Regions from separate parts of the Homo sapiens genome. Here region 1 is linked to region 2. The links come from fine-mapping of genetic effects on gene expression. Tissue or cell type: lung. Region 2 holds a variant in brackets; the other region holds the start of a gene. All regions are shown on one strand. Distances are from middle to middle.

Region 1 (3,007 bases), 22 kb before region 2:
ATGCATATATTAAAGAAAAACAGAACAAGCTCAACCAATCAGAAGTAGTCCACAAACTTGTATAACTAGAGGCTTTTTAGTGGGATAGACCAAATAAGGCAACTTTATAACTGTAACCAATCAAATATTTTCTTTTTATTACTTTCCCATTCACTCTGTAAAAATCTGCTTCTTCGACAGAGCTGAGCCCCAGAACCACTTCTGGTTTGCAGCTTCTCAATTCATGAATCACCGCGTGCTGAAGTAAACTTTAAAATTTTATTGTGCCTCAGTTTACCTTGTACACAGAAGCAACAGAGTCATCAGAGGAGATGTTTTAGATATTTTAACTTATTCATGTTTTCCTTTTGTAAACTCGAAAGAGAGGATAAATGTAAGAGCCCAAAAACATAAAAACCAACTTTAATATATGGATTTTGTTTAGAACTTGAAAAATTGTAAAAAGAAATCATGAGACAATAAGAAAAATGTAAATAATGACTGGATATTTAATAATATTAAGGAATTTTAAAAATGTTTTAAGTAATTTAGCCCCAGGTGTCTTCATGAGAATTTAAAACGGTGGTCATGCTTTTTCAAAAAAGGAGGAAAAAGGGTTTAATTCAGGAACACACAGAGAAAAAAAGAGACAATGAATTAGCTTTGCTAGCCAGTGGCTTAAACATTCTCCACGTAGCTGCTGGGCTGATGGGTGGGGTGGGACCCACTTCCAACTTGTCTCTTGGACAAAGTCTATACTTCTCAGCCGGATATTCAAGGCTTTCCACATCTAGGTATACAAGCGTTCTCCTATCCTCTTTTCCTATCAGGAATAGGTGCTTAATAGTAACATCAAGGCCAGGCACAGTGGCTCACGCCTGCAATCCCCGTACTTTGGGAGGAGGAGGCTGGGGGATTGCTTGAGGCGAGGAGTTCGAGACCAGCTTGAGAAATATGGTGAAACCCCTTCTCTGCAAAAAAAATATAAAAATTAGCCAGGCGTGGTCACCTGCGCCCGTGGTCCCAGCTATTCAGGAGGCTGAGGTGGGAGGATCGCTTGAGCCCGGGAGGCGGAGGTTGCAGTGAGCCGAGATCGCGCCACTGCACCCCAGCTTGGGCGACAGAGCGACTCTTGCCTAAATAAATAAATAAATAATTTTTAAAGTACAACAAAGACACATTGAGGCTATAGTGCCAAAGAGCTCTAGTGATGAACCCTTGTCAGGGGGCCGTGTCTGCGGGAGGCCGAAGGATCCCGGGTGACATGCTTTCTTTGGGTGCGAGGCAGCGTCTCGGCAGAAAGAATATTGCGAGTATTACTGAGGGTACATGAAGGAGAGAAGCCCCTTTGGTTCGGCCTTGGACTAAGCCCTTGTTCTCAGGTGAACTTGCAGTGTGATCTTGAGTAAGGTCAGTCTCCTCTCTCACCTCAGTGGCCCGAAACCTCAGGAGGTGGCAGAGGTTTTCTAATGACTCTCCCAGCTCTGACATCCTCTGACTTCACTCTGGGAGAACGTGGGCTGGTGGACTCCTGGCAGAAGCCGACACACAGTTGGGCCATAACAAAGAGCCCTGGTACGGGGCACGTTCCCGCCCCCGGGAGGTTTTGGAAACACTGTGAGGCAGGGGGCGGGGCTTGAGCGGGCCGCAGCCAGTCACCAAAGGGCCGGGCGCTGGGGGCGGGGCCTCGCGCGAGCGGCGGCGGTAGCGGCGGCAGCGGCTGCGGCCAAGCTGGGTCCGAGCATCCCGCGGCTCTGGAGCCGCCCGGCCCGGACATGGCGACCGTCCGGGCCTCTCTGCGAGGTGCGCTGCTCCTTCTGCTGGCCGTGGCGGGGGTCGCGGAGGTGGCAGGGGGCCTGGCTCCGGGCAGTGCGGGTGAGTAACCTCCAGAGCAACGGTTCGAAGCTGTCGGGAGCGGCCGCCACAGCGCTCCAAGATGGCGCGGGGCAGGGGGCGGGGGTGCGCGCGACCCCCAGACCCTGCCCACGTCCGGCGACCCCGGGACCCCAGGTCTCAGCGCTCCAGAGGCTGGTGCCGAGGCGGGGCGAGTGAGGAACTCTCTCCGCCCCAAGATCTTCTGGGCGGTGACTCGGGTTTGAGGCCTTGGTCTGTCACCCACCGACACGGGCCCCCTCTTCGGCACTGACCCCTTCGCTTGCCTCTGCTGCTTGTCAGAAAAGGGTGCGATGCCCCCGCCCAGGATCGTCGCGAGGTTTAGATGGGATTTCGGATACGCAGCCGCCCTACCGCGGCCCTAGTTAGTTATTGTTACTTGTTACTTGACCCGCACTTGGTTCATAACGACCTTGGTGGCGGTGAGCACTGACGGTCCCCACAGCCCGCGTGGTGGGTCCTGGACTCGGGCAGGAGACATTAAAAATCAGTAAACCCTGTCCCCCGGGGGCTGGCAGGCTTGAGGAGAGAAATTCTTGCTCTACAAGAACTAAACCAAGGATGGATAGGAAACTGTTAAGTGCTTATTGATTGCTTCCCGCTTGCTGGCCTTTTGAGTGCACGCCGACTCCTTCCGTCCAAAAGCTCTCTCGGTAGGAGATGGGGTACAGCAGGAGATTGAAGTAACTCGAATTCAAGGCAGAAATGTCCAGAGGAAATGAAGGGCCATGTATGAGTGCACAGAGGGAGAGAGGACATCGACCTAGGATGAGTGGAAAGTGGAGTGATTCCCCCTAGCTGTACTAGACATTGAAAGATGGCTAGGACGTGTGCATGCAAAAGTGGTGAAGTGCATTGCTTACAGGGAGACAGGCAGAGACACCTTAAAAAAAAAAAAAAAAAAAGCAAAGTCAGCCGGGTGCGGTAGGCTCTCCCCTGTAATCCCAGCACTTTGGGAGGTGGAGGCGGGCGGATCCCTTGAGCCCAGGAGTTCGAGGCCATCCTGCTTAACATAGTGAAACCCCGTTTCTACTAAAAATACAAAAATTAGCCGGGCATGGTGGTGTATGCCTGTTGTTCCAGCTACCCGCGAGGCTGAGATACGAGGATTGCTCGAGCCCCGGGAAGTTGAGGC
Region 2 (2,500 bases):
TGCGTGTGGTCCCAGCACTTTGGGAGGCTGAGGCGGGCGGATCGCTTTGAGCTTAGGAGTTCAAGACCAGCCATGGCAACATGGTGAAACCCTGTCTCTACAAAAAAATACAGAAATTAGCCTGGCATTTGTGGCTCATGCCCAAGGTCCCAGCTACTTGGGATGCTGAGGCTGGAGAATTGCTTCAGCCTGGGAAGTGGAGGTTACAGTGAGCTGAGATCACACCACTACACCCCAGCCTGGGTGATAGAATGGGACTCTGTCTTAAAAAAATAAATAAAATAAAAGAACATGAACAGACACTTCTCAAAAGAAGACATTTATGCAGCCAAAAAACACATGAAAAAATGCTCACCATCACTGGCCATCAGAGAAATGCAAATCAAAACCACAATGAGATACCATTTCACACCAGTTAGAATGGCAATCATTAAAAAGTCAGGAAACAACAGGTGCTGGAGAGGATGTGGAGAAATAGGAACACTTTTACACTGTTGGTGGGACTGTAAACTAGTTCAACCATTGTGGAAGTCAGTGTGGCGATTCCTCAGGGATCTAGAACTAGAAATACCATTTGACCCAGCCATCCCATTACTGGGTATATACCCAAAGGACTATAAATCATGCTGCTATAAAGATACATGCACACTATGTTTTTTGCGGCATTATTCACAATAGCAAAGACTTGGAACCAACCCAGATGTCCAACAATGACAGACTGGATTAAGAAAATGTGGCACATATACACCATGGAATACTATGCAGCCATAAAAAATGATGAGTTCATGTCCTTTGTAGGGACATGGATGAAATTGGAAATCATCATTCTCAGTAAACTATCGCAAGAACAAAAAACCAAACACCGCATATTCTCACTCATAGGTGGGAATTGAACAATGAGAACACATGGACACAGGAAGGGGAACATCACACTCTGGGGACTGTTGTGGGGTGGGGGGAGGGGGGAGGGATAGCACTGGGAGATATACCTAATGCTAGATGACGAGTTAGTGGGTGCAGCGCACCAGCATGGCACATGTATACATATGTAACTAACCTGCACATTGTGCACATGTACCCTAAAACTTAAAGTATAATAATAATTAATAAATAAATAAATAAATAAATAAAAATTTAAAAATAAATAAATAAAATAAAAAGGAAGTTGGAAAATATTCTAGACAACTGATAAATCTAGAGGATAATAAGTTTTACCTCTTCTTATTTCTTATAGAAAAATGCCACAAAAACTTTTTTTTTTTTG[T/G]CAAATAGATTTTCTCCTCAAAAAGTGAATCCCGACTAAAACATCTGTTGCAGCGAGCCCCAGATTATTGCCCAGAGACAATGGTAAGTCTTATTGTAACTTAACTGTAGAAGCTTCTGTCTAAATGAAACTATCCAATGAATTACTTTCAGAGTTAGCAAATTTTTAAATGTGATTGGAATTTGTGGTCAAAATAAAATGTTAAGTTTAACTTAAATACTTAAAAAAAATCTTCATATAAATTGCTAGATAGAATATTGTTTTTCTTCTTTTATTATCCTATGATATAAATCTAAAAACAATCTTAAATATAAATGTGTTCCTATCTTTAAATTTCATTATAGTATTTTATCTGGGGTCGGGCGTGGTGGCTGATGCCTGTAATCCCAGCACTTTGGGAGTCTGAGGCGGGTGGATTACCTGAGGTCAGGATTTCGAGACCAGCCTGGCCAGCATAGTGAAACCCGTCTCTACTAAAAATACAAAAATTAGCCAGACATGGTGGCACACGCCTGTAGTCCCAGCTACTCCAGAGGCTGAGGCAGGAGAATTGCTTGAACCCAGGAGGCGGAGGTTGCAGTGAGCTGAGATAGCATCACTGCACTCCAGTCTGGGCAGCAGAGTAAGACTCCGTCTCAAAAAAAAAAAAAAAATTATCTGGAACTTAGAATTTTATTTATTATTATAGTTTGACTAATTTTATGAAAACTATAATAACTAAATCTGTTTATTTTGATTTTGGAAAATTGAATTTGGGATAAGGGAAAATATATGACTTATTATCTTCCAATTTTCTGACATACTGTAGATATATTGCTTACCTATCTGAATCATGTAACTTTAAGACCTTTTAAAGGTCTCTAATACTTGGGCTGTCCTCAGTGTTTGGGATGCTCATGTGCCAGACCAAGAAAGTGTGAGTTTGTTTGCAAGAGCCTCTTTAGATATGGTGGCTTATATTATGTGAAGGGGAAAATAAGTTGATGATTAAATAGTTCTGACTGACACATTCCCTTTAGTCTTCAGTTTTGTCTATAGGCTTGGAAACAGTGATTCCAGTAAGTATCCTGAGTAACTAGACTCATCGTTAATGCTCTCAGATGGGAAAAGAACAAGGAATATTTCTGTATCTCAGCTTTGTTCCCCCCGAATAGCTGATTGATGTGCCTGTAGTTCTAGAACATTGACTGTGTAGACATAGCCATAATCAAATTAGCTGTTCATAATTTCTGTAGA

What was found.
Region 1: it holds the start of RECK, and the variant in region 2 is fine-mapped to the expression of RECK in lung (TOPMed, PIP above 0.99).

The regions. Positions count from the first base shown.
Region 1 is chr9:36,035,245-36,038,251 of GRCh38, forward strand. RECK (reversion inducing cysteine rich protein with kazal motifs) reads left to right here and starts at 1,669. Exons shown (of 21, transcript NM_021111.3): 1 at 1,669-1,854. The coding sequence starts at 1,755. RefSeq lists silencers at 1,589-1,788, 1,799-1,948.
Region 2 is chr9:36,057,555-36,060,054 of GRCh38, forward strand. RECK (reversion inducing cysteine rich protein with kazal motifs) reads left to right here. Exons shown (of 21, transcript NM_021111.3): 3 at 1,273-1,347. Among named protein-coding and RNA genes, the nearest start is that of RECK, 22 kb to the left of the region's middle. The variant T/G (reference allele first, on the strand shown) is at 1,265.